7 separate regions of the Homo sapiens genome follow, and all the other regions are reported to be linked to region 5. Evidence: microRNA targets listed by miRTarBase, many of them from high-throughput screens and not tested one by one. Region 5 holds a microRNA gene; each other region holds the end of a gene's coding sequence.
Evidence for each region. The annotated mature microRNA hsa-miR-4279 reads CUCUCCUCCCGGCUUC and lies in region 5 at 1,771-1,786, opposite strand. An mRNA with a match to its seed (bases 2 to 7 or 8) in the 3' UTR can be bound and repressed. Matches are read on the target gene's strand: a 7mer-m8 pairs with bases 2 to 8, a 7mer-A1 pairs with bases 2 to 7 and ends in A, and an 8mer does both.

Region 1 (4,079 bases), not on the chromosome of region 5:
TGCGCGCCCGCCGCGCGCGCCGCTGCTACCTGCTGAGCGTGGCGCTGCGCCTGCTGGCCGAGCTGACCTTCCTGGGCGGCCAGGCGCTGCTCTACGGCTTCCGCGTGGCCCCGCACTTCGCGTGCGCCGGTCCGCCCTGCCCGCACACGGTCGACTGCTTCGTGAGCCGGCCCACCGAGAAGACCGTCTTCGTGCTCTTCTATTTCGCGGTGGGGCTGCTGTCGGCGCTGCTCAGCGTAGCCGAGCTGGGCCACCTGCTCTGGAAGGGCCGCCCGCGCGCCGGGGAGCGTGACAACCGCTGCAACCGTGCACACGAAGAGGCGCAGAAGCTGCTCCCGCCGCCGCCGCCGCCACCTCCGCCACCGGCCCTGCCCTCCCGGCGCCCCGGCCCCGAGCCGTGCGCCCCGCCGGCCTATGCGCACCCGGCGCCGGCCAGCCTCCGCGAGTGCGGCAGCGGCCGCGGCAAGGCGTCACCGGCCACCGGCCGCCGAGATCTGGCCATCTAGGGGCGGGCACCGCCTCGCGCGGACTGGACGGCGAGGGCCGGACCCCGCCACCTCCGCCCGCACCGCAGAAGCCGGAAGCTGCTTCCACCAGAGCTGTCGCGGGACCTGCCCCGGCAGGAGACGCGTTGTGGGGACGGCCCGCGGGCGGCATCGCACTTGCCTCGTACTGCCTCCCAGTGGCTGCCGGCGGCACCTGGGGCAGGCCGGGCTGGGGGCGGAGAATGAACTCAGGCAGGTCCTGGATGCCACCACCCAGGTGGAAAGGAAGGAGACCAGGACCCTGAGAGAGAGTGGACCCGAGGGGGAGAACAGAGCGGAAGGTGGAGAGTGGTTGTTTTACTGGGGACAAAAACAACTGTGATGCCAGCATTCTCAGGCACTCTCTGTGTTCAGAGAGAGAGTGGTCCCCCTGTGGGCTCTCTGCGAGTGTGCATACACGGACACATAAGCACTGTGAGCTGTGTGCACGCGCACCTGTACACCCTGTGTGAGCGCTGTGCATGTGCGCGCATGTGTACACCCTGCGTGAGGCCCACTTGTGCACACAGACACACGTAACCCTCCCGGGTGAGCTGTGTGCACATGCACACAGAAACATATGCCCCTTGAGAGCTGTGTACTCACATCCCTGTGAGCTTTGTGTGAGTGCATTGTGCACACACGCACATGTCCATTCTGTGTGGGCTGCGTGTGCACACCTGTACACAGAAACATCCTTGTGCGCTATGTGTGCATGTGTACATCCGGCGTGACCTCTGTGTGTGCACGCGTGTGTGTGTGATCTCTGATATGCACTGCGGGGGTGGCCAGGATCCGATGCCAGCTGCAGCCACAATGGCTCCCTCCCTACCACCCTAACCCAGCCCACCTGCCAGGGCATCACAGGAGGTCTGTCCCCCCCTCCCAAGAGACCCCGCCCAGGGAGGGAAGAGGAGGAGAGGCTCCCTTTCCCCGGGCAGGCCTCAATCCTCGGGAGCCTATGAGCAACATCCTCACAGTACCCCTTGTGGCGAGGCGGGGGCTGGGCGCTTTCATGGAGGTGGGGTGGGGGTGGGCGGCGGGCCAGAGGGCAACCCAGACGTGTGTTATGCCTCCCTCCTCCATCTTCATCCTCCCCGCCGCTACTGCTCCCCCAGGCTATAAACGGGAAAGTCCCTTCTGTCCTCAGGAGAAAGCTCCCAAAACACACGCGCTCCCGGCCCTGCCTTCCCTTCCAACCACCCCCTTCTTCCTACTTGCGGGCATTCGAAGAGCTGCTGCCTATGCAGCGCATCCCCCTCCTGTGTCTCCCCTCCCGTCTGCCCTCCCCCTTCACCAGCCAGTGGGCTGCTCTCCATAAGATCACCCAGGACCTAAGCGAGAAATCCAGGGGCCGTCATCGGACTGCACCTTGCGGGCCTCACCGCATCCTGCCTACCAGGCTGTGCGTTCCCCGCCATCACCCCACCCTGTCCTTCTGAGTTCCTGGCGTCTTTCTCAGCTCTCCTGTGCCCCACACAGCAGTGGGAGGTGTTTCTGAATAGCGCCCCCCACTTAAACCCGGGACTGAGGGCAGCACCCCTGCCCTCAGGGTGAGTCAAGCGCCTTCACAAAGCTTCCTTCTGAAGCCCTGCCCCTGTCAGGCCTTCGACTCCACAGCACCGGCTTCCAGGTGTGCTCAGAACCATAGGGAATTTTCTCTTCTAACAAGCACCAGACCTGCTTGCTGCCAAGCGTTTGAACGTGCTGTTCCTTTGCCCAGAGTAGCCGCTGCTTCCTGCAGCCTTCTCCTCCCCTAGCTAATGCCCACCCACCTATTGTTGTCACTTGGGAAGAAAACAGACACCTTCAAGGAGAGGGCTCCCCTGGTAGCCCCCACCCCAAGACAGAGCTGGATGCCCCTCGCTTCCGTAGGGAAAGCACTTCTCCTGCAGGATGGCATTGCTCTCTCCCCTTCCATGGCACGTAGTATGTGCTCAGTAAATATGTGTTGGATGAGAAACTGAAGGTGTCCCCAGGCCTACACCACTGCCATGCCCGAACACTATCCATGCTATGGTGGGCACCATCTCTCTGATGACAGTTCTGTGTCCACAACCCAGACCCCTCCACACAAACCCAGATGGGGCTGTGCCGCTGTTTTCCAGATGTATTCATTCAACAAATATTTGTAGGGTACCTACTGTGTGTCAGAAGATGTTCAAGATCAGCATCATCCGATGGAAATAGCATATGAGCCATGTATGTAGTTTCAAGTTTTTCATTAGCCACATTAAAAAAGTAAAAGGAAACAAATGAAATTAATTTTAGTCACGTATTTTATTTAACCTAGCACACCCAAAGTATTTTCATCTTAATGCCTCATTGATATTAAAAAGTATTAAGGAGATAGTTTACATTCTTTTTTTCATACTAAGTCTTCCAAATCTGCACCCACCTAGCCAATTCTTTCCTCTAGAGATTTAGCAATGAGCCTCGGCTACAGCGGGAGACTCCGTCTCAAAATAAATAAAACTAAATTAAAAAGAGATTTAGCTGAGAGAGGCCACCTCTTCCAGGAAGGCTTCTGAGCCCTGCCCCAAGCGTGATTCAGTGCCTCTGCCCTGCACTCCCGTAGGCCTGTCAAGCCTGTTGCAGCTCTGCCCAGGTGGCATCCCGGTCACCTTCCTCTGGCTCAGTCTCTCTGCGGAGGATGGGCCCTGGCTCAGTGCAAAGCACATCAGCCCTGGAGGACCACACTCCACAGCAGTGGATCTCACATGGGGGTGATTTTGCCCCCCAGGGGGGCGTTTAGCAGTGTCTGGAGACATATTTGGTTGTTACAGCTGGGGTGGGAGAGAAGCACCACTAGGGTTTCATGGGCGGAAGGTTGGAGATGTTGCTTAGCATCCTGCAATGCACAGGACAGCCCCCACAACCTGGCTCAGATCTTCACATTGGTGCTGAAGCTGAGCAACTCTGCTCGACAGCAGTGAACTGTGGACCACTGAGGACAACCCCAAGACTAGAGGTTCCAAACAGCAAAGGCACTACCCCAAGGGGCATTTTGTAAATGTGGGGGCCACTGCTTTGTTTTCACAATGATGGGGGACCCCATTGGCATTTAGTGGGCAAGGGCTATGGACGTCAAGATATCCTCTTGAAATAAAAACCTGCTTGGCACAACTTTTTTGTTTTTATTTTTATTCTTTGAGACAGGGTCTCCATCTGTTGCCCAGACTAGAGTGCAGTGGTGTTATCACGGCTCACTGCAGCCTCAACCTCCAGGGATCCAGCAACTCTCCCACCTGAGCCCCCCCCCCAAGTAGCTGACACCACAGATGCACACTACAAGGCTAGGCTAATTTTTGTATTTTTTTTTGTAGAGGCAGGGTTTCACCATGTTGCCCAGGCTGGTCTTGAACTCCTGGACTCAAGTGATCCGTCAGCCTCTGCCTCCCAAAGTTCTGAGATTACAGGCTTGCGCCACTGCGCCCAGCCTCAGGCACAACTTTAGAATGTCCAACTGGACATTGGCATAAGTGAAAACCCTGGGCCCAAACCCTGTTTTACATGTAAAACATTAAGGGTTTTGAGGCCAGGCACGGTGGCTCA
Region 2 (4,079 bases), not on the chromosome of region 5:
GCCTGGCTGAAATATGTATTTCTTAACTCCAGACATCTGGAGTATGAATTCCTTAAGTGCAAGGACTATGTCTTCATCTCTCTACTGTCAGTGCCTAGCACAAAGCCTGGCACATAGATGGTTCTTAAAAATGTTTATTCAATGCATGAACAGAAAGACAAATGCCTACTACCAAGTCAGCCTAAGGTTCATTGCAACTGCTTATGCACATACCAATGGCTTGCATATGTCTCACCCCATCTAGGATCATCTAGACCAGGGCTGTAAGGGAACCTACATTCAACAACAGGTGCCATAATATCTAACAATAATGACAGGCTATTGGAAGACCAGGAAAACAACAAAGCTCATGTATTTCACCAGCTGGAAAATTCATCTAGTAAACAGGCTGTTTGAGGAAATCTCTTGACATTGGAAGCATGATGCACACACGACCTTAAAACCCTACCAATAGCTCTGATGGAGGAAAGAAGGGAACCTGAGCTAGCACGTTGGTATTCACGAGGGCTCTTCTGTCCTGAATTGGTCCTCTCATCTCTGGGAAAGAGAAAAGTGTCCCTAAAAACCACAATAGGGATGAGATGTGCCTTCCTAGATTCAAGTAGATTCAGTCTGAGACAGCAATTTTGTTTTTATGTACCAACAGAAAACCTAAACAAGCAGGAAATAAAAGCTACTTCCCTCACTAAAGATATATTAAGGGCCAAATATTTGTTCTAAATTGATTGCTAAGTCTATTAGATATTTTGAAAAGAAAAATAAAACCCCAGACTATTTAAAAACTGAAATCTACAACTGTATGGAGTTCATAAATCTCATTCTTAAGAGTCACCTTCAGGCTGGGTGCGGTGGCTCATGCCTGTAATCCCAACACTTTGGGAGGCCAAGGCGGGCGGATCGCTTGAGGTCAGGAGTTCAAGACCAGCCTGGCCAACATGGCAAAACCCCGTCTCTACTAAAAATACAAAAATTACCCGGGCGTGGTGGTGGGAGCCTGTAATCCCAGCTACTCAGGAGGCTGAGGCAGGAGAATCACTTGAACCAAGGAGGCGGAGGTTGCAGTGAGCTGAGATCACACCATTGCACTCCAGCCTGGGCTACAGAGCAAGACTCCATCTCAAAAAGAAAAAAAAAAAAAAAACAGCAACCTTACCATGTTACAGGGTTTCTTTGACTACATACAGCCATCTGAGGGATGGAGAATGCAACTTTTACTTGCTCGATGGGGTTTCCAACATCTGTTGGAAGAAACATGGCTTCTGAAAGGTGCCTTCTTAAAAATAAAAAAGAAAAAAAAAAACTACAGGTCCAAGTTTTGTTTTTAATAAAAATATTCCTCCCACTCTTAAGGTGTGTGCTTTCTTTTTTGACCTATTTTTCCTTAAATTTGTCTGTAGTTTCCCTGTATCTCTATATTTTTCCTAGTGCAGTAAACAATGCAATCAAAGAAATAAAAACCAGGGTCCACTCTTGCCCCAAACACTGAAGAGGGTCAAAGAGAAGAAATCGCAGCACGGAAAATGGCCCAGCTCTAAATATACAAACAACATTAAAAACAAAACAAAACAAAATAACCCCCCCCCCCAAAGCATTATTATTGACATTCCTGGTACATTTCCTATAATATAATGTTGCAGACAATGCTTCTTTCCCAGGGAGTCCAGCTCACTCAAGAGACATCTAGTTGGTGCCTCAGGAAAGCCTGGGGGTGTTGAGTCCTCTCTGCCAAGCCTAAAGCTTTTTATGATCTCAGTATCTCACAGAAACATCTGTGGTATAAATGAATCTAAAAGGGGACGAAGGCAGGCAGGCACCTGTCACTGTTCTCCAAATCAGCCAAAAAGCTGAAGAGCGTGGGTTCTAGGAGACAGATGCCATTAAGAGTTGAGGGATGGAGGGCAGAACAAGAGGAAGCACCAAATGAGTGGCTGCTTTGGGTTCCAAAGCCAAAAAAATGGCCCCACCAAAAAAGGCAGCTGGTTTCATTGAGGAACTCCCTGCTCTTGGAGCCATGCAATGAAAATGATGGCCTTGGAGCCCCATCCCTGTGACAGCCACAGTCTAAGAACCAGAGCCATTTACATCACATTGCACAGTTTCAAATGAATGGACTGGTCCTAGCTTAGGAGGGTGAGTGCTTTGACAAAGTGTGGAACAAGGTAAGCTATTACCTTGAACCCCAAAGCACAGCTGCAGCATCCTTGGCTTTCCATTTCTTTCTTTTTTTTTGAGACGGAGTTTCACTCCTCGCCCAGGCTAGAGTGCAATGGCATGATCTCAGCTCACTGCAACCTCCGCCTCCCAGGTTCAAGCAATTCTCCTGCCTCAGCCTCCCAAGTAGCTGGGATTACAGGCGCGTGCCACCATGCCCAGCTAATTTTTTTTTTTTGTATTTTCAGTAGAGACGGGGTTTCACCATGTTGGCCAGGCTGGCCTCAAACTCCTGACCTCAGGTGATTCACCCACCTCGGCCTCCCAAAGTGCTGGGATTACAGGCATGAGCCACCGCACCCGGCCTTGGCTTTCCATTTCTGCAAAACCACAGGCCACTGCTGCCACTTGCTCTGTGGAGATGTACCTTCCACTTATTACCACCTTCTTCTCAAAATGGCACTCACGGTACTAACTTTTGGAGATCTCCAGAGGCGTCAGTTGCACCTCTGGAAGTAAGATGATTTCCCTGCCCCATACTTGCCAAAGCACTTTTTTTTTTTTTTTTTTTTGAGATGGAGTCTCGCTCTTGTTGCCCAGGCTGGAGTGCAGTGGTGCGATCTTGGCTCACTGCAACCTCTGCCTTCCCAGGTTCAAGCGATTCTCCTGCCTTGGCCTCCTGAATAGCTGGGATTACAGGCTCCCGCCACCACACCCGGCTAATTTTTTTTTCGTATTTTTAGTAGATACGGGGTTTCACCATGTTGGCCAGGCTGGTCTCAAACTCCTGACCTCGTGATCCACCCGCCTCGGCCTCCCAAAGTGCTGGGATTGCAGGCGTGAGCCACCACGCCCGGCTAGCACTTCCCTTTTTAAGCTAGTGCTGGCATGCCACCTTCCCCTCAAAGCAGAGTCAACTTCCTTTTGTTTGAGAGTTTTGTACTGGCCTCTGTAGGCCCTTTTCAGGATACAAAATAAAGTGCCCTTCAGCATCCACATGCGAGTGGGTTGCCTTCCAGTGTCAGATCTGTGTTCCAGAGTTTGGTCAATGCATCTTTACAAGAATAAAACCACATGCCTACACACACAGACGAGCCTGGAAATGGCTTTCTGGACAGGGTTACTTGTTATCTTGACACTTCCCCTAAAAGAAATTACTTTCTTGGTGTAAGATGATTAGGACATTGAATGACCTACTCTCAACTTCTGGAAGGGCAGCTTGTTTTGTCCATTTTTCAATGAGGGAGTGGGAAGAACCCAACATTTTCAGTTACAACAATAAGATTTTGTTTTTTTTTTTTTAAAAAAGGGTCCTATGTGGAAATGAGTGGGACAATGATAAAAATAAACAAATAATTAAAATTCCAAATCAAAACATAACTCCTGGCCCTGAGATCCCCAGTTAATCCTCTAAGACCACAATCTCCACATTGTGAACTTGATGCTGGTGTTCTTCCATCTCAGCCACAACTTTCTCCTCAGTCCTCAGCTCTGTCTCCAAGATGACTGCTTTGCCCTCAGTATCTTCAGCTTCTGGGTCCGGGGCTGGATCAATCTCAATGATGGTCTGCCCATCCTCTGAGGTGCTTTCAACAGCCTGAATTGCCGAGGTTAGGCCGGACTCCATGGCCACCAATTCCACAGGGCTAACCATGGTGGTCATGTTGCCCAGTGTACTCCCATCCTGCATGGCAGTAGAGCTCAGCAGCGCCAAGCTAGATGAAGGGTGGATGGTCACTGTGTCTGGTGAGCTGCTCTTGGCAGAGGAGACCACTGTGGCATAGCGGAAGAGCTGAGGGCCAGAAGGCAGTGTGTGGACAGTCACAGGACTGGAGCCCTGGCTGAGGGTGGCCACTGGAATATTGCCCATGGAAAATGACTGACCCACTGGGGTGATGGTGATGGGTGAGATGACTGTGAACTGAGGC
Region 3 (4,079 bases), not on the chromosome of region 5:
ATGAGAGTGCCCCATCTTGAGTTGGTTGGGATTCTTGCCTCGTTTATACAGAGCCCATAGTCCAAACCCAGATCCAGTCACATTCTGCCATGAGCACCTGCCCAGCCCAGTGAAATGCAATGACAGTGTGACTCTGTACTCTCTTCTCTCCTTAGGTGAGGAGGAACCTCCTGCCCTTCCTTCCAAGCTCCTCTCTTCTGGGTCATGCAAAGCAGATCTTGGTTGCCGCAGCTACACTGATGAACTCCACGCGGTCGCCCCTTTGTAACAAAACGAAAGAGTCTAAGCATTGCCACTTTAGCTGCTGCCTCCCTCTGATTCCCCAGCTCATCTCCCTGGTTGCATGGCCCACTTGGAGCTGAGGTCTCATACAAGGATATTTGGAGTGAAATGCTGGCCAGTACTTGTTCTCCCTTGCCCCAACCCTTTACCGGATATCTTGACAAACTCTCCAATTTTCTAAAATGATATGGAGCTCTGAAAGGCATGTCCATAAGGTCTGACAACAGCTTGCCAAATTTGGTTAGTCCTTGGATCAGAGCCTGTTGTGGGAGGTAGGGAGGAAATATGTAAAGAAAAACAGGAAGATACCTGCACTAATCATTCAGACTTCATTGAGCTCTGCAAACTTTGCCTGTTTGCTATTGGCTACCTTGATTTGAAATGCTTTGTGAAAAAAGGCACTTTTAACATCATAGCCACAGAAATCAAGTGCCAGTCTATCTGGAATCCATGTTGTATTGCAGATAATGTTCTCATTTATTTTTGATGTAGAATTTACATTGCCATGGGTGTTAAATAAGCTTTGAGTCAAAAGTCAAGAAAGTGACTGAATATACAGTCACCTTTTATGAAATGAGTCTCTGTGTTACTGGGTGGCATGACTGATTGAGGTGAAGCTCACGGGGCCAGGCTGACCGTCTTGACCGTTCCACTTGAGATAGGTTGGTCATCGTGCAGAAGGCCCCAGGACCTCAGCACACACAGCCTCCTCTTGGTCTGAGTAGGCATCATGTGGGGGCCAGATCTGCCTGCTGTTTCCATGGGTTACATTTACTGTGCTGTATCTCAGATGTTGGTGTCTGGAAGTTTATTCTTAAGAGACTGCTACCCAGCTGGTCTGTATTATTGGAAGTTGCAGTTCGTGCTTTGGTTGGCCTTCTGGTCTAAAGCTGTGTCCTGAATATTAGGGATCACAATTCACTGAAATACAGCAGTGTGTGGAGGTGATGGCCAGTTAATCTGCTGAACTGGTTTTGACTAATGACAAACCTCTTTTTAAGATGGTAGAATGGAGGTGATAGTCACAAAAGTAAATGTTCCATTTTTATGAATGACTTTCTACAGAGTTTCTATTTCTAAAGAAAAAACAATTGTTCACATCCCATCTGATGATTAGCATGTGTGTAATGAATGCTGTCTTGGTCTCCCCTGTGGAAACCCTTCTCCCTGTGCCTTAGAGCAGGTGTGTACATCTCTCACTACCTTTCTCATGGGTGCTGTTAGATTTTGGCACCCGTTTTCTCAGCATTCAGCCCAGGGAATGTGGTTTTCACTTCTTCGTCAGATAAGACCAACATGAAGGGGTATGTTGAGAAACATCCTGAGGCAAGGTGGGAGGTGGGATGGGGCAGGACTTTCCCTTCCAAGCACATGCATGGCAGGTGGGGAAAGGGGGGCTTGCACCCCTGCTGGAAAGAAAAGGTTTGTGTATATTTCTGATGCAAATGTCATACTCACTGCTCTGTAAAGGCAGCTGGCAGCTTTTTGGGAAAAGAACGTGCTCGTCTGTTCTCTGGCATCAAGTTTCTTGCAGCTGCTCTGAGGGAGAGACAGTGAGCTGCAAGACTGCCTCCCCATAACAACAGGCAACTCAGAGAAGAGTCATTTTATGTTGTTCCTATGGAATCTGGAATGAGTGCAGAGCTCCTACCCACACATGACTGCCCCGCCATTTCATCCTAGGCATTCTGTGAAGGAGATTGGTTAGTCCAAACTTGCTAACATACGAAAATTCACTTGGAACATGATGAGAGATTTCTTATTGAGGCCAAGAGATGTTTCCTGTCCCAGAGGAACCATTAGGAGTCGCTTTTAGGGTATTCAGCTTTGTTCATGAAATAAGGCATCTCTGAGAAAGTGGCCCCAGGGAGAGAATGGAGGACTGGGAGGAGAAGCATTAACTGAGCTCCAAGGGTGTGTGGGCAGAGAGCTTGCTATGTGAACTCACTCCTTAAGAAAATGGAAGAGAAAAAGAGAGTGCTAGTTAAAAAATCGGGATGTTTTAGTTTGGATTTAGGGTTTTGATACTTATGTTGAAATACTAATGTTTCTGATCAATAAAATCAAACTCTTAATATACCGAGTAATGAAACCATAGTGTGATTGCCTCAGAATAAATTGAGAAGTCCAACTTCCTAGTTTTGTTTAATTAGTTTCACTTTTTCTACTCTCCCCAGTATGCTAGAAATGGGAATCGTTGCCCTGCAGATTACGGCAAAACATCTGTTTTAAGCAAAGCTGCATTTTTTGACTCAGAAATTGTCCCAGACGGTGGATATAAGATGAAATTCAGAAAAACGTTCTGCCAAGTCACAGGCTTTTAGATATTATGGAAACAAGAAATGGAAAACAGGATGATCTCCATGAGAGGCCTTGATCCTGAGAGTAAAAGGCTTGTGTAGATAGGTTAGACAACGTCCTCTAGAAAAGAGACCAGGGATAAGTCCAGGTTTCCAGGAAAACCAAGAAGCCTGCGGGTAGCTGAAGGTAGAGTGCTAGTTGTTCATCTTAACTTACCAATGAGCTACAGAAAGGACTTAGCATCTGATGTCATCAGCTTTGCCAGGAGAGTGATCAAGGAGGTTAAAGCTCAGGTAAAGGTGTGCCTTCTCAGAGATTGGCTACAAGCAACAGAGACCACCTCAACAGAGACCACCTCAACAGACTCAGCCCAGCCATACAAGGTGCCAAAGCTCCTCCAGAGGGCTGTCTTGGGCCTTTGAGGCAATTGATCTCCAGAAAGAGTCAGAAGTCATTCCAGTCCAGGCCCAGGTATTCAGATGGTGACCCAGCCAGATAATAGTATCTTGAGCAAATAATAGTATCTTGAGTGCAAATAAGCAGGAAGACTGTCCTTCAAAAAATGTGGGGTTACATGATTTTCAGAGCCTTTTTTTCAGAGTTGAGCATCTTTTCTTTTAAAAGAAATAAGGGGCAAGAGGACCAATTTTATTCCTTGAGGAAAAATGACACACCCTTCTCCCAAAAGAAAGAAAACTCTCTGGCCCCCCAACTTCAACACTAATTTGGCTCCCTGAAGAAGAGAGAAAATATTATTTCTGTCTTTATTGAAGAGAAATGGGCAATGCCAATGTGAAGGTTACTAGTCTTTTTTATTTTCTATTGGTGAAGACTACTACTGCTCTTATTTAGCAGATCTTATACCTTCAGTGGTCACCAGTATAGCAGGTGAGGTATAAGGAAAACAGCAGTGTGATGATAAATGGTAATTAATATACTTTGTCTGTGTCAGCAATAGGGAATGGTGGGGACTGTGGCAAACTGAAGCGCCCCTGTTCCACCCACAGTGGGTAATTTTCCAGTCGACTGTGGCCATGAAGTACTTCCTGATCTTCCCATTTTTCAAGAAAAGCTGACAATCTGGATTTTTATATGAAAAATTCTGATTTTAAAAAATATTGGCAACTAAGTTAAAATTCAAGTGAATTTAGACCCAGCAGAAGACATGGATGGACCTGATTTGGTCCACTGACTACCAGTTTGTTAACCTGTGCTTTATAAGATTTGAAGGAAAGGCATTCATGGTAATTACAGACGGTGCCACCAGAAAATGCTCTTGCTAAATGCAGCCAGTAGTTAGATTGCTTCTTTCTCCAGTCTCCCCCGCAAAGAAATTTGACGTGATTCTGAATGCACTGGACATGTCTTGATTGCGTCTTTACATTTCACAGTGTCTTAAAAGAAAGGCAAGCCAGTTGTTAATTTCAGAATCAGATTTATGCTCTCTCAATTTAAAAAATGCTGGGAACAATTTCATTTTTTTTTTTTTGAGATGG
Region 4 (4,079 bases), not on the chromosome of region 5:
CTTTACCTCACACATGTCAAGTCATTCAAATATATCTCTAGGGTCGTGGTGTCCTAGAGTACTTTCTGAGATGCTGAAACGTTCTATATCTGTGCTGCCCAATATGGCAGCCACTTCTGGCTATTGGGTTCTTGAAAAGTGGCTAGCACGACTGAGTAACTGAATTTAAACATTTATATAATCTTAAGGAATTTAAATTTAAATAGCCACATGTGGCTAGTGTTTGCAGGTCTAGCCGTTTTATTTTTGCAACATTCTCTAACATTTTCATATTCACGCCTCACTCAACTGCCAATCATGCTGTGCTATGTCAGTCAGTCAAGATATCTTTCTCTTCCTTTTTGTGAAGAGCCAGCCTGGATTCAGGTCTCTGCCAGCAAGTTCCAGAGCTGGTCTCTGAGTGATCCTTAGCCTATTTATGCCGCAGGTGGCAATTTTTTGAATTTTTGCATGAGTGAAAAATCAGACCTTGGCGATGACCTCGAGCAGTGGGATATAAGTGACTCCCACATGCTTAGCGTTCCAAAAATGGAACCCTTGGCATAAGTTGGTTAAGCTGAGCTAACCACCCCCACTTCCCTTTTCCAGAAACCTGAAGGCCGCCCTACATTTGCCGAGCTGCTGCGGGCTGTCACAGAGATTGCGGAAACCTGGTGACCGGAAACAGAATGCCAACCCAAAGAGTCATCTTGCAAAACTGTCATTTATTGTGAATATCTTCACCATATGGGGTCACTTATGGTGAATATCTTTCTTCAGAGTTGCTGACTCTTGAAAACAGTGCAAAGATCACAGTTTTTAAAAGTTTTAAAAATTTAAGAATATTCACACAATCGTTTTTCTATGTGTGAGAGGGATTTGCACACTCTTATTTTTCTGTAAAATATTTCACATCCCAAATGTGAAGAAGTGAAAAAGACTTCGCAGCAGTCTTCATTGTGGTGCTCTTCATGATCATAGCCCCAGGAACCCTTGAGGTTCTTCTTCACAAGGCTGAGAGTGCTTCCTTCTTGAAGACGAGTGACATTCATCACTTCAGTGATCCATGCATAGAATATGAAAATAAATTCTTCCAACTCATGGGATAAAGGGGACTCCCTTGAAGAATTTCATGTTTTTGGGCTGTATAGCTCTTTACAGAAAATGCACCTTTATAAATCACATGAATGTTAGTATTCTGGAAATGTCTTTTGTTAATATAATCTTCCCATGTTATTTAACAAATTGTTTTTGCACATATCTGATTATATTGAAAGCAGTTTTTTGCATTCGAGTTTTAAACACTGTTATAAAATGTAGCCAAAGCTCACCTTTGAACAGATCCCGGTGACATTCTATTTCCAGGAAAATCCGGAACCTGATTTTAGTTCTGTGATTTTACACTTTTTACATGTGAGATTGGACAGTTTCAGAGGCCTTATTTTGTCATACTAAGTGTCTCCTGTAATTTTCAGGAAGATGATTTGTTCTTTCCAGAAGAGGAGACAAAAGCAAGATAGCCAAATGTGACATCAAGCTCCATTGTTTCGGAAATCCAGGATTTTGAATTCGAGATGAAACAACCAGCAATCACAGTTAAATCTTAACTTTGCCTGCACTCTTTGTAGGAATGATCAGAAATTTATCTTTATCATTCTGAGTGCTTCAGGAGTACAATAGGAAGAAAGATACTGGAGAAAGCACTAATGTAATCACCATGAAGTCTGACAACAGGAGCCCATTATTTGCGTACTGTCCCACCCTGTATCATGGTTCTCTGGGAACAAGCTTTATGATTCTCATTAGAGTTTATTTGTTGATTGTCAGTAGTTGCGACTTTTAAATTATATTTCCCCCACTCAAAGAATGGTATCTTTATATATCAATGACATTCAATAAATGTGTATTATTTCTAATGAGAATCAGTTACAAGAGGAGACTTGATAGTTCAAGTAGTGGTCTCAGAAATGTTTGGGCTGAATGTGGTGGCTCATGCCTATAATCCCAGCACTTTGGGAGGCCAAGGTGGGAAGATAACTTGAGCCCAGTTTGAGACCAGCCTGGGCAACAAAGTGAGATCCTATCTCTATTACAAGAAAAAAGAAAAAAGAAAAAAAAAGCTAGGTGTAGTGGTGCATGCATGCACGTAGTCCCAGCTACTTGGGAGGCTGAGACAGGAGCCCAGGAGATCAAGGCTGCAGTGAGCCATGATTGTGCCACTGCACTCCAGCCTGGGTGATAGAGCGAGACCCTGTCTCAAAAACAGAAACAAGTTTGTATGAGATGCTAGGCTGTTTCTGAGACTATCACACCCCCTTTCCTATGACTCCTGTTACGGTGAGGAAAGACAGAAGGCTGTTATTACTGAGACCTCAATTCACATAACATGAATTTACATAAGATAGTCTAGCTCAAGAAGACATGAGACTACTAAACAGCAAAAGCAGATGGAAGGGAGGTTAATATTATGACATAGGAAATAATGTAGTATCAATATATGGCTGCAGTAAGTTGCCCTTTCCAGGTTTTACTCAGCTTGGAAGTCCCCATTTCTCTCAAAAAGAAAGAAAGAAAAAACCCAGCAAAGCCAAACACTGAAAAGCTAGGACTGAGTATGGAGCATCTGCCATCACTATAGTTGTACCAGGTACAGAGCAAAGAGTGACACCCAGAGGCAAATCATTCTAAGAGGGCAACAACTATGACAGTGCCTGGCACTTCTAAGAGGGTGCAGCACTTCTAAGGTGCTAGGCAAGCTCTATTCCTTTTGTTTTAACACCTCGGGAAAATTTGAGGTACCAAATTAGGTACAAGAATAACTGGGGGTATGTCCTAGGTAACTAAGAGTCCAGATAATGTGTGAATTTTGAATGTGCGTGGAAAGAGATTTACCATTCTTTGTCTAACTAAACAAAAAAGTTTCCTTAAGAGGTAGTCAGCCAGGCACAATGGCTCATGCCTGTAATCCAGCACTTTGGGAGGCCGAGGCGGGTGGATCATCTGAGGTCAGGAGTTAGAGATCAGCCTGGCCAACATGGTGAAACCCTGTCTCTACTAAAAATACGAAAAGTTAGCCAGGCGTGGTGGCACGTGCCTGTAATCCCAGCTACTCGGGAGGCTGAGGCAGGAGAATTGCTTGAACCCAGGAGGTGGAAGTTGCGGTGAGCTGAGACTGTGCTACTGCCCTCTATCCTGGGTGACAGAGTGAGACTCTGTCAAAAAAAAAAGAGATAGTTATACAAGTTCTCCTGGAAAGGAACTATGTTTTGCAACCAATCTTAATATTAGTTATTGATATGAGGGTTCTCTGGGTCATTTGAGGTGAGATAGTGCAATATTTAAACAGCTCTGCATAAAAAAATGAATAGGAGGTTTAGGGGTCAATTGTAGAGTCCTAAAAAGGAGAATATAGGAGGTCAACAGACAGCGAGGAGGCTCAGAAAAATGGAAGGAATTTGGAGGCCAAGCGGAATATATAATCAGTGAAAATAACCTTTTGGCAAGAATAGATAAAGGAATTTAGTAAACTTTTTATTGAAGTGCAATACATGGTACCACCATGGTATTGGGAACATGTTTGGACTGGCAAGCAAACTGATGAGATACAATAGCATTTAGCCTAGCACTAAATTTGCTTAGCTTTATAGTAGGATACAGGACAGGAAATTAAGCATGCATGATGCTTGGGTCCCTCCTCACCTGCCTAAAGAGCGTGCATGAGCTTGTGGTATTTGGATGAGGTTGTGGTATGTGGGGGTTTGCCTTGATGCAAAGAAGCTTCTATGTGGGTTTCCCACCAGTCATATAGGCCTACGGTTCACAGGTCTCCCAGCCCCATGTACTGTCCCATAGATTGTAGGTTTCACAGTGCACAAAATGGATGTCTGTCCCTGGTACCCAATATTCCAAATTTATCTTAATTTGGGTCATTTACAAGAAACTCGTGCTGGGATAAGACAAACCTAAAATTTCCCAAGCAGGCATAGTTCTGGGAGAAAAATGGTACAGACCTGCTATTAACTCTTTGCTCACACATACATAAAGAAAAGTACACAAATCATGAGTATGTAACATCATTGATATTGGCAAAGTGAATACAT
Region 5 (4,079 bases):
GCACACAAAAAATGTGGACTTGCCTGGGGCTCCCTGCTGGTGTTTGGAGACTAGGAACTAATCCTCCCATTAGTTCTTTCTCTGCCGCACCAGGGAAACATCATATATACTAGTGACTTTCTGTCTTCTTTATCTCATCAGTAAAAGGCGGATCCTGTTTTTGTTTTCAAGAATGTGTTAGGGTATTGGGATGGCTAGAATCCATTTGGAGCACATGAGAAAATGTATAGCATTTTCTGTTTAGGAGACATTTGAACCATCTAATTAAAAAAAAAAAAAAAAAAAGACTTAAGTCCGGATACTAGACCACCAGTTTTTTAATACATGGAAAATTTAGAAGCAATTTCAAAAATGTCTCACTGTGACTGGAACTAGGTTATGTCAATACAAGGCTCCTAGGGGAAAAATTTATACTGGATAAAACTCTAAAATAAATGAATATACTAAAAAACACCAAAAATCTGGCCAGCAGTGGTGGCTCACACCTGTAATCCCAGAACTTTGGGAGGCCGAGATGGGCAGATCACTTGAGACCAGGAGTTTGAGACCAGCTTGACCAACATGGTGAAACCCCATCTCTACTAAAAATACAAAAAATATCTGGGCATGGTGGCGGGCGCCTGTAATCCCAGCTACTCCAGGAGGTTGAGGCAGGAGAATCTCTTGAACCCGGAAGATGGAGGTTGCAGTGGGCCGAGATTACTCCACTGCACTCCCACCTGGGCAACAGAGCCAGACCCTGTCTCAAAAAAAAAAAAAGAAAGAAAATAGAATGGCTGCAAGAAGTAAACAGAGGATGTTTGCTCCTATTTTGTTCCTTACAAGTATAGCTAACAAAGGACCTTGTGAGTATTGGAATAATAAAATGTCATTCCCATTTAAGTTGCACATGTACATTTTTATACCTGCACCAAAGGTTTTTGGAATCTTTGTCTCTGGCTGTTGGATCATGAAAGACCCCTTTGGCTTCAGCTGTAAAACAAGGCAAATTTTACCCATAATAGAAACTACTATATATGTGTGTTGGTTTAGGGAAGCCTATTTTTTAACATTCTATTTCCTGATAAAACCTTAGAAAAATCATATTGTGTTTAAAAGTTGAGGATTTTTTCAGCAACTCAAGGGCTGACTGATAATTTCTGGTTTTGCTAGTACTTGTCTACAATGGAAGTTGGAAGCTTAGTCGGAGTAGAAAAGTTGTAAATTTGGTGTCATCAAGACAAATGGCTTTTATTTCCCAACAGACTTCTTTATAAAATAATTTAACCCCTTGATTTTTGTTTGCATTTGGATGCAATTTAAAAAAAAATCTGGCCCTTTAATAAGTGCAAGACAGATTAAATGTATTGTGAAATATCAGGTCACTGAGTGGAAAGTTTCTTCACTGATCATCCTAGCTTCACATTTTTAGTTATGTGAAGTACACATTTTGATAGTATTTTGGTTTTCTCCTGCCTGAAATCTTCAGTCCTCCTCCCTGGCAGTCTGTAGAATGAAGCAGCTGTGGTCCGTGGCCAAGTGTGCGTCCTTTGGTGATGGAAGAGCTGATCTGCAGATACCTGCAGGAGGAAGCCATGCATGATGTCTGCTGGGATATGATTTCCCCCCATACTCCTGGAAAATTAGAACCGTTTATAGCAGCCTGGTTCCAATACACTGGCAGGGCAAGGATTGGCTCCTTCTCTTACAAACACAGCGTGGCTGGATGCATTCATAAATGAAAAATGATCTGAGTGCTGTGGGTGGGTGGGGCTCTGGAGCTCAGGAGGTGAAGCCGGGAGGAGAGAGAGAGAATCTGCTCCTCAGCTCCACAGAGCATGGGGAGCTGGCAGGAAGTTGGAGCACGCATGGCGCAGCTTGTATTTTTGTTGATAGTTAATAACCCAGGACTTTAAAGACCTGAATGGAGAAGGGAAGTGAAGCACAACCAACTTTGGAGTCTGTCCCATTCCAGAGGCTGCTGAAGCACAGCAGAGCACGCTCACCTGACCAGCTCATAAAGCAGGTAGGACGGGAGACCTGAGTGGTGAAGAGAATCACATTTTCTCTCTGAACACAACTTACAGGTCTTCCAAGGGTTTATTATTTTTTAATTATATGAGAGATGAGCAGGTAATAATAACATAAAAGACTCAGCTTGAATTGTGCTGATATCTGCCCAAGCAAGAGTTCTCTCAGTTACTAGTGTGATGACCAAATGACAGTTTTATTCTGAGAGTTGCTTTAAAAAAAAAAAAAGAAAAAAAGCATGCAGCATTGAAGCTTTTTTAATTTAAACTCATTTAAAAATTGGCAGATGATAAATGAACTGCAGACACTGTGTTTTAGAACAAATACTTTGAAGGGAGTCAACCAGAAACCGATTTTCAGGCTTGACTGTGGCTCCATTTTCATATTTCAGAGCCAACGAGGTGCTCACTAATTTTTGCTGGCTTTTGTAAGAAAGGAGGTGGATGTATAACAGCTGTGAAATATCCAGAAATTGACTGGGATCCAGAGTGAAGCCCGAATGCACTAATGTTTTCTCCATTAAGGCAGGCTGCCTCTGCTCGGCTTCTAAGTCAAGGGATTGGAAAGCAGTGTGAAAGTGAAGTGTGAATCCTGAATATTTGTCATGGAGTGGGGGGAGTGCAGAGGGTTGGAAACTGTCACAGTGACGTTTCACACTCAGAAGTAGAAAATAAATGGGGAGGACCATGGGTGGCAGCCACATGCAAGGATAATTTTAAAACTGATTTTTGATTCCCATGATTGTAGCCGAGTCTCAGGGTGTTCCTTCCGTTGTCAAGGTTTGGGGCTTGTGATAAGAGAAGTAGAACAGAATAAAGATCATCTCCAGCCCCAGGTTCTGAATCATTTCTAGGCCTTGCTTCTCCTGGGCACTGGGATGATCTGACATGTTTTCCCTCACTAATGAAGTGGCCAGGGTGTTGGGGGATTGGGCTAACATGGAGGAGGTTGGATAGAAATGGTGCGTGTGGTCAGCCTGAGAAGAACGTCAGAGGTAGGTGGAGAATTTTGTTTCGGTAGAATAGCCCAGCCTGAATCCTGGAACTGTTTGCGTTGAGGTTTGGAGAATGCCCCGTAGCCACAGGGGTGTGTCTGAAAAGGCAAAATTGGGAGCTGCTTGGGTTACTGCTTACTGCCTGGCTGGCATCCTCATGCTGTGGTCATCCTCATGCCGTGGTGGCCACGTTTTGTGGCTTTGCATTTTAGTCCTGGAGGGCTGGGGGATGGCTGTGTTTAGTCAAGCAAGCCCACACATCATTGCTAGTCTCTCTTTCCGTGTGATTTCTCAGCATTACACAGCTAGCCTTCTATGGGAGGAGGAACGGCACCTCCTGTGGTCTTTTAGAAAACTTTTTCACCCCATGTTCCTACCGTCGCCACCCCAACTCTTGTCCTTTCTTGCCTACTGTTCACCTGTTGTGTGTGTCCCCTTTGTCTCCCATCCTTCAGACTGATCTGTCCCAGGTGCTATCTGCAGTGACTTAGAAGCTGTGTTGGGGACAGGTTCCTTCCCAGGGTTCCTGCTGGAAGCGGTGTTCAGCAAGCTATGGCCCTTAGGCAAATCCAGACTGCCCTAGCCTGTTTTTGTATGGCCTGGGAGCTAAGAATGTGTTTTATGTTTTGAAGAGTTGAAGAAACAAAGAAGAATATAGGACAGAGATAGTGACCCACAAAGCCTATCCGATCTTTAGAAAAAAACATTTGCTGGTTTGCTGGTTGGTCTGTTGATTTCCGCCCCCATTTAGAGACAGAGTTTCACTCTGTTGGCCAGATTGGTGTCAAACTTTTGACCTCAAGTGATCTGCCCACCTCGGCCTCCCAAAGTGCTAGGATTACAGGTGTGAGCCACTGCTCCCAGCACTCCACCTTGACCTGTTGATTTTTTAATATCATTGGTGAATAATGTGATCAGTGGGTTGATGCAGCAAGTTAAGCCCTCAGCAATTTGAATGGGCTCTTGTTTGGGAAACTGATTTTAGTTTCTTAGTCTGTATTGGTGCCATCGCCTCCAAATGGGTAGATTCAGGAGTTAGGAAGTTGAAGCTTTTCTGCAGGGTCCCAACAATAGT
Region 6 (4,000 bases), not on the chromosome of region 5:
CCAGCTTGGGCAACAAACAGAGCAAAACCGTATCTCAAAAAAAAAAAAAAAAAAATATATATATATATATATAATTATCTCATTATCAAAAACTGCTATTTACACATTTAATATAGGCAGTAATATAATAATATCTGCTCCTATGTTATCTCCTAGAGTGTGAGAATGATGACACATTTCCATTGCACAGTACTTAAATTTTTTTGCCAACATAATAAAATGGACGTTTAGCCCTTGGAATTGGGTACTTTCTGGTTTAAATGTTACTTAGTGACTGAGCTCATTTCCCCCCCGAACTAATTTTGATATGTGCATGCGGGATGCTGCAAACTCTTCCTAGGGAAAGAGGAGGAAATAGAGAAAAAGCATAGTAAAATATTCGATAAGTAATTTTCCTTTTTCTGTGCCTGCAGGGAAAGAAATGGAGCTGGTATTTGGACTATTTATTTTCACAGGGGTTACAAGGCTTGAAACTTTTTATAAGAAGTAGTGTTCATCATTCTTCCATTCCCAGAGCAGAGGGCATAAACTGCAACAATCAATATTAAATGAATGTTGACATAAACTGAACACACTGGACTAAACTCACTCCTCATTGCTAGAGCAAAGTGGCTCATCTTGAGTTCCCATTTTCATTTCACTGACAGACTGCCATCCTCAAGGAGTACTCAGACTGGCCTTCTGTTCATGGCTTAGGAGAGCCTTGGTGTGCCTAACTGATTTTTCAAAATTTAGATTTTTTTAGCCTACCAGTGAAAAATGACCCCTTCATCATCAGGCTCTGCGTTCTACCAAATTGTATGTAAAAAGACACATCTGTTTTGTGGTAGGATTTTTTCACATTTTTGGGTACTATGAGCTGCATTGATGGAAGACAGCAGGCAATATGTGGTGACAGTTAACTCACAGACATAAACATGCAAAATACTTTGCTGTCTCTGGGGATATTGCCATTTTTCTTACTGTGAGCAACAGCACCAACACCAAGTTAACAGGATGCAACATGTGTATGACTCTAAAAGCCCTAAGTAGTTGGTAACTTCCTGGGCCTTCAATCATAGCAATTTGATGAGGGAAGGAAGGGGAGAGGATTTGTTGGGTAATCAAGACATTCCCGTATATGTCTGATTTCATGGAACTGCTCTATTTTGTTTGTGTGTATTGTATATGTATATGTGTATGTGTGCGTGTATGTGTGTGTCTGTAGCTTCAGTTTTTAAGTGTAAGGACTAAATAAACTAACTGAAATTTTACTTTCAGAAGGAATTCTGAAGTTTTAAAAAAGTTAATAATAGCTAGAATATCTTGCTGAAAATGTACTATAAAATTTTGCCTGCTGGGCGTGGTGGCTCACGCCTGTAATCCCAGCACTTTGGGAGGCCAAGGTGGGTGGATCATGAGGTCAGGAGTTCGAGATGAGGCTGGCCAATATGGTAAAACCCTGTCTCTACTAAAAATACAAAAAATTGGCCGGGCATGCCGGCACGTGCCTGTAGTCCCAGCTACTCAGGAGGCTGGGGCAGGAGAATCGCTTGAACCCGGGAGGCGGAGGTTGCAGTGAGCCAAGATCGCGCCACTGCACTCCAGCGAGACTCTGTCTCAAAAAAAAAAAAAAAAATTACCTCAATGCTATTGAATAATTCTCCCTTCTAGTAAAATTCGTATCATTTGAGAAGAATCAAGCTGAATTAATTTTTGTCTTTAAGGATGCATACTTGGGGTTCTTTTTTTTCCCCATTTAAAAAACAAACCCTAAACTATATTATTGGATGGCGTTCAGACTAGAAATCCCACTCGTCCATTGACTCATTAATTGATTCAATAAATATTTATTGAGCTCCTTTCTCTGTGCCAGGTACTCTTCTGTGTGCTGGTTATACAGTTGTGACCAATACAAAGTACCCGGGTTTTTGTTTTTGTTTTTGTTTTTTGAGATGGAGTCTCACTCTGTTGCCCAGGCTGGAGTGCAGAGGCATGATCTTGGCTCACTGCAACCTCTACTTTCTGGTTCAAGCAATTCTCCTGCCTCAGCCTCACGAATAGCTGGGATTACAGGCACCTACCACCACGCCCAGCCAATTTTTGTATTTTTAGTAGAGACAGGGTTCCGTCATGTTGACCAGGCTGGACTTGAACTCTTGATCTCAAGTGATCAACCCGCCTTGGCCTCCCAAAGTGTTGGGATTAGAGGTGTGAGCCATTGCACCCAGCCCAAAGTACCTGTTTTTATGGAGTTTACATTCCAATGGAGAAGACAGACAATAACATATATCAAATGCTATAAAGAAAGGGCAGGGAATAGGGATACAATGTGTTGAATTTTGTCAAATGCTTTTTTTGTATCTTTTGAGATTATCATATGGCTTTTGTCCTTCATTCTGTTAACATGATATATCACATTTACTGATTTGTGTATACTGAATCATCTTTGCATCCCGGGATGAATCCCACTGGGACAGAATGTGGAGAGGGTTGAAACTTTAGATAAGATGGTTTGGGAAAGCCTGTTTGAAGAGATGACATATGCAGAGGCCCCAGTGAAGTAAGCATATGAGTCATATAAATATTTGGGGAAAGAGCATTCTGGACAAAGGTAAAAAACAAGTGAAAAGGCCCTAAAATGTTAACTTACTTGGCATGTTTGAGGAATAACAAAGAGGCCAGTAAGGTTACAGCATAGTGATTAAGAGAGAAGAATGGTAAGAAGTGACATAAGGAAGAAAGCCAGGTCCTTATAGCCTGGCATGGATATGTAAATGGGAAGCAATTAGATTGAGAAGAGGAGTGACATAATTTGATTTACCTTTATGAAATATGGAGCTACAATGTCAAGGTTAGACTGAAGAAGATTAAAGAGGAAAGCAGAGACTGGTTAGGTTATTATAGTGTCCTAGGTAACAGTTTTGGACAAGTGTGATAAATGTTGAGGTGGGAGGGGTTAGAGGTTGGATTCAGACTCTGTTTTGTAAGTAGAGAAGATAATGTCTGCTGATAGCTTGGATATGAGGAGGAAAAGGAGAGGAGTAAAGGATGACTCAGATTTTTGACCTGTCAATTGGGTGAACTCTGAGATTAAATTCTGTTTTGGCTATGTTAGGTTGGAAATGCTGTGTAGGCAATTGGATATCCAAGTCTGGACTTCAGAGTACAATTTGGGACTAGAAAATTAATTTGGGAGTCATTAGGGAATAACCATGACTTTGGATGAGATCACCTAGTACAGCTAGAGAAGAGAAGGTAGCAAAAGACAGAGACCTAAGGTATGCCAGCATTGAGAAGTAGAGGAGAAGAGGAACCAGCAAAAGACTGAGAAGGACCCACCAGTGACCTAGAAGAAAAATCAGGAGGCTGGTATTCTGGAAGCCATCAGAAGAAAATGTTTCACAAAAGGAAGGTAGTATTGAATGGTGTGAAATGTTACCTATATACCTGGAAAAAAGCAACTTCAGCTGCTTTTTAAGTAAATGTGATAGTTTGTACTGCAAATAACTTTCCATATTGCTTTTCAGATCATGATATTTTGGTCCTTAAGATCATGTAGAACTTTCCATTGTGAGAAGGGAGTTGATTATTTTATCATTAAAGAAACTTTTCTAAACTTAAATTTATGAAAAATAATTTTTCCCTTAGGTTTGTCTTTTTGTTCAATAATGATTCCCTGGGTATCTTTTTTTGCCCCACAAATAAAATACTTAGACATACCTGGATACCTTTTTTTGTGCCTATTTCTCTTTTAACTTTTTTTTTTTCTTCTTGAGACGGAGTCTCACTCTGTCACCAGGGTGGAGTGCAGCGGCCTGATCTCAGCTCACTGCAACCTCTGCCTCCCGGATTCAAGCGATTCTCCTGCCTCAGCCTCCCGAGTAGCTGGGACTACAGGCACATGCCACCATGCCCAGCTAATTTTTGTATTTTTGGTAGAGATGGGGTTTCATCATGTTGGCCAGGATGGTCTTGATCTCTTGACCTCGGGATCCACCCGTCTCGGCCTCCCGAAGTG
Region 7 (4,079 bases), not on the chromosome of region 5:
AAAATAAGTTAAAGGTACAGTGATTAGAAATGAAGAAATTAAACTGTCATTATTTGCAGACAACATAATGTGTCAATATAAGGTCCAAAAAGTCTGCTCTTAAGCTATTAAAAAATAAGTAAATTTGGGGAAATGACAATATAGAAGATCAATGTACTAAAAAAATTTGATAAAAAGCTAATTGTAAAAACAATTAGAAAATAAAAATTTAAGTATCGCACTTAGAATTGTATTAAATACCATCGAAAGATATGAACTACAAAATATTGCTGTGAGACATCAAATGTATATAAAAAGTAGAGCTATATACAACCAATGTACATGGATTAGAAGGATCAATATTATAAAATTGTCAGTCCTCCCAAATTTGATCTATAGATTGCATGCAATTTCAATCAAAACCCAAAAATCCTAATGTTTTTCTTATAAATTGACAAACTGCTTCTAATATTTAAGTGTAGATGCAAAGGACATAAAATAGCCACAAAAATCCAGAAGAAAAGTTGTTGTTCTTCCACTACCAGGTGGCAAGACTTATTACAAAGCTACCATAATAAAAACTGCATGGTATTTGCCATGAGAATCTACAAATAGATCAATGGAAAAGAATAGAGAGATCAGAAGAGACTTATGTACACTTGATTTATGATGAAGGTGATACTGCAGAATTGTGGAGAAAGGTTGATCTCTTGAATAAATAGTATTAGACCACCTGATTATCACTACTGGGAAAAAATAAAACTTTATCTATCTCACATCATACATCAAAATTAATTCCTAGTGGTTTACCAGACTAAATATGTTAAGTAAAGCAATAAACTTTCTGGAAGTTTATATAGGAGATTATTTTATATTCTCAGGATAGAAAATGTCTTAAACAGAAAATAAAGTTATTAATCATAAAAGAAAAAATGAGTAAATTAAGAACTCATTTATCAAAAGGCATCAAGAGACTGAAAAAACAAGCCAAAAAAATAAGAAGAGATATGTGTAACACATATTAACTGATAAATGACCTAAAACCCAGAATATTTTTAATATCCTATATATCAGTAAAGTTAACCATATTTTTATTAACTAAAGTCCATACTTAATTCAGATTTTCTTAGTTTTTCAAGAGCAATTTTAGGTTTAAAGAAAAATTGAGTGGAAAGTACAGAATTCCCACATATAGTCAACAATACTGTATTATGTGCTTAAAAATTTATAAGAGGGTAAATTTTGTGTTGTGTTTTTAACACACACAAAAAGATAAAAGGACACGGGAACATTTTTGGGGGGATTGTTATGTCTTCTACCTTGATTGTAGTGATGGTTTCACAGATGTATGTGTATGTACAAATTCATCAAATTTTATATATTAAATATGCACAGTTTATTGTATTAAACTAATTATACTTCAATAAAACTTTTTTTAAATACAGAAAGTTCCTATATACCCTCTCCACCACCACCACCCCCTCACAAAGTTTCTCTTATTAACATCTTGCATTAGTGTGACACATTTGTGATCATTGATGAACCAATTTTGATACACTATTATTAACTACAAGGCACAGTTTACATTAGGATTCACTCTTTGTATTGTACAGCTCTATGCGTTTTGAAAAATTTATGTCATGACTCCATCATTATAATATCACACAGAATAGTTTTACTATCCTAAAGTGCCTGTGCCTCCACCTGGTTATCTCTCCCTGACTCTCCTTGAACCCCTGACAACCACTGATTTTTAATTGTCTCCATAGTTTTTCATTTTTCATAAGAGCATATATTTGGAATTACACAGTATGTAGCCTTTTCAGACTGACTTCTTTCACTTAGTAGTTGCATTTAAGGCTTCTCCATATCTTTTCATGTCTTAATTGCTCATTTATTTTTATCACTGAATACTATTACATTATGTGGATGTATCACAGTTTGCTTATCCATCACCTATTGAAGGACATCTTGGTTGCTTCCAAATTTGGGCAATTACGAATAAAGCTGCTATAAATATTCATGTGCAGGTTTTTATGTGGACATAAGTTTCCAACTCACTTGGGTTAATATCTAGGAGCATAATTGCTAGATCTTACATATAGTAAAACTATGTTTAGCTTTGTAAGAAACTGCCAAACTGTCTTTCAAAGTGGCTGTACCATTTTGCATTCTGACCAGCAATGAATAAGGCTCCCACTACTCCACATCCTAACAAGCATTTAGTGTTGCCAGGATTTGGGATGTTAGCCATTCTAACAGGGGTGTCATGGTATCTTATTGTGGTTTTAGTTTGCAATTCCCTAATGACATATGAAGTTGAGCGTCTTTTCAAATATTTATTTGCCATCTGTGTATCTTCTTTAATAAGCTGTCTGTTCCAATCTTTTTACTCACCTTTTTTTTTTTGAGGCAGAGTCTCACTCTGTTGCCAGGCTGGAGTGCAGTGGTGCGATCTCAGCTCACTGCAACCTCCGCCTCCCAGATTCAAGCAATTCTCCTGCCTCAGCCTCCTGAGTAGCTGGGACTACAGGTGTGCACCACCACGCCCGGCTAACTTTCGTATTTTTAGTAAAGACGGGGTTTCACCACATTGGCCAGGATGGTCTCGGTCTCTTGACCTCGTGATCCACCAGCCTGGGCCTCCTACTCACTTTTTAAGTAGACTCTTTACTTATTATTGAGTTTTAAGAGCTATTTGTATTTTTTTTTACCCAAGTCTTTTATCAGATATGTGTTTGCAAATATTTTCTCCCAGTCTTTGGCTTATCTTTTCATTCTCTTAACAGTGTCTTTCACAGAGCATAAGTTTTTAATTTTCATGAAGCCAACTAATTCTTTTTTTAATGATTCATGCTTTTGCTGTTATATCTAAAAAGTCATCGCCAAACCCAAGGTCACCTAGATTTTCTCCTATATTATCTTCTAGCAGTTTATATTAGTACTTTTGTATTTTACATCTAGATTCATTTTTTTACATGTGGATGTCCAGTTATTTCAGCACCATTTGTTGAAAAGAGTAAACTTTCTCCATTAAATTGCTTTTGCTCCTTTGTCTAAGATCAATTGACCATTTTTGTGTAGGTTTGTTTCTGGTTCTCTATTCTACTCCACTGATTTCTCTATTATTTTAACAATACCATACTGTCTTGATTACTGTAGCTTTATAGTAGGAAGAAGTTGGATAGCAGCACTCCTCCAACTTTGTTCTTCTTCAATATTTTATTGGCTATTCTGAGTCTTTTGCCTTTGCACATAAACATTAGAATCATCTTATCAATGTCCACAAAGTTATTTGCTGGGATCTTGATTGGGATTGCATTGAATCTACAGATCAAACTGGGGAAAACTAACATCTTAACAATATTGAGTCTTTCTATTCATGAACATGGAAAATCTTCCCATTCATTTACAGCTTCTTTGATTTCTTTCCTCAGAGTGTTGTCATTTTCCTCATAGAGATCTTGTACATATTTAATTAGGTTTATATGTAAGTATTTTTTGGTGTTTCCTCTGTCCCTCTGCCTTTTCCAGTAGAAGCTTCCTTTTGTGTTCCTGCTATATTATCTTTGCCCTCCTTCTGTCCATGGACAGAAGGACATTTTTGCTCCTCCTTAGGTCCATGACTCAAGCTGCTTTTGACAGAAAATAAATTCTGGCTCTGTGATTTCTTTTCATTTGAATGTTTTATCTTGAATGATACATTGTTCATCTGAATACCTTTTACCAGATTCTTTATTTTAGCTTCATACAGGGAGAATTCCAAATCCCAGGTCCTGTTGTGCTTCATAGATTCCATCTGTTCTTTAAAATGCTTCAGATCCTGCGCTAAACAGGGAGAAATTCTGAAGCAGAACTTGAGCTCCAAGTTCGAGAAGCTGTCTTTTTTCGAGATGTCCAGTAAAAACTGCATAGTGAGGGTCATCTCATCATTCCCTTCCTGCTCCTTTACCTCCAGCAGCCTTTGCACTTCTCTGCGGGACTCCTTCCCCAGCCGGCTTTGGTCCTCTTTCACCAGGTAAGACATGGCATGAAAAAAGTCCTGGAAGCTGATGTGGCGGAAGCTGTAGAACTTCTTGATGGCAAGTCCCAATTGGTAG

Region 1: miRTarBase lists GJD3 as a target of hsa-miR-4279. Seed matches in the 3' UTR shown: 7mer-m8 at 1,439-1,445 and 7mer-A1 at 1,673-1,679.
Region 2: miRTarBase lists GMEB1 as a target of hsa-miR-4279. Seed matches in the 3' UTR shown: 7mer-A1 at 2,813-2,819 and 7mer-A1 at 2,316-2,322.
Region 3: miRTarBase lists IL17RD as a target of hsa-miR-4279. Seed matches in the 3' UTR shown: 8mer at 2,169-2,176.
Region 4: miRTarBase lists TXK as a target of hsa-miR-4279. Seed matches in the 3' UTR shown: 7mer-m8 at 1,479-1,485.
Region 6: the mRNA of CENPI is a reported target of hsa-miR-4279. Seed matches in the 3' UTR shown: 7mer-A1 at 1,522-1,528 and 8mer at 3,282-3,289.
Region 7: miRTarBase lists NLRP10 as a target of hsa-miR-4279. Seed matches in the 3' UTR shown: 7mer-A1 at 2,888-2,894 and 7mer-A1 at 2,475-2,481.

What each region holds. Positions count from the first base shown.
Region 1 is chr17:40,359,358-40,363,436 of GRCh38, reverse strand. GJD3 (gap junction protein delta 3) reads left to right here. Exons shown (of 1, transcript NM_152219.4): 1 at 1-2,785. The coding sequence ends at 506. It overlaps GJD3-AS1 (GJD3 antisense RNA 1), which reads right to left and starts at 592. Exons shown (of 1, transcript NR_186704.1): 1 at 1-592. RefSeq lists silencers at 249-358, 389-468, 589-658 and an enhancer at 486-780.
Region 2 is chr1:28,714,248-28,718,326 of GRCh38, reverse strand. It overlaps GMEB1 (glucocorticoid modulatory element binding protein 1), which reads right to left. Exons shown (of 10, transcript NM_001319674.2): 10 at 1-4,079. The coding sequence ends at 3,554. Among named protein-coding and RNA genes, the nearest start is that of YTHDF2, 21 kb to the left of the region's middle.
Region 3 is chr3:57,092,582-57,096,660 of GRCh38, reverse strand. It overlaps IL17RD (interleukin 17 receptor D), which reads left to right. Exons shown (of 13, transcript NM_017563.5): 13 at 156-4,079. The coding sequence ends at 268. Among named protein-coding and RNA genes, the nearest start is that of SPATA12, 34 kb to the right of the region's middle.
Region 4 is chr4:48,064,215-48,068,293 of GRCh38, reverse strand. TXK (TXK tyrosine kinase) reads left to right here. Exons shown (of 15, transcript NM_003328.3): 15 at 589-1,901. The coding sequence ends at 657. Among named protein-coding and RNA genes, the nearest start is that of NIPAL1, 49 kb to the right of the region's middle. RefSeq lists an enhancer at 3,824-3,873.
Region 5 is chr5:31,934,342-31,938,420 of GRCh38, forward strand. MIR4279 (microRNA 4279) reads right to left here and starts at 1,818; the gene lies at 1,761-1,818. All of the region lies in intron 2 of PDZD2 (PDZ domain containing 2), which reads left to right.
Region 6 is chrX:101,162,420-101,166,419 of GRCh38, forward strand. It overlaps CENPI (centromere protein I), which reads left to right. Exons shown (of 22, transcript NM_001386188.2): 22 at 414-3,707. The coding sequence ends at 548. Among named protein-coding and RNA genes, the nearest start is that of DRP2, 55 kb to the right of the region's middle.
Region 7 is chr11:7,956,181-7,960,259 of GRCh38, forward strand. NLRP10 (NLR family pyrin domain containing 10) reads right to left here. Exons shown (of 3, transcript NM_001391958.1): 3 at 1,357-4,079. The coding sequence ends at 3,464. Among named protein-coding and RNA genes, the nearest start is that of NLRP10, 7.2 kb to the right of the region's middle.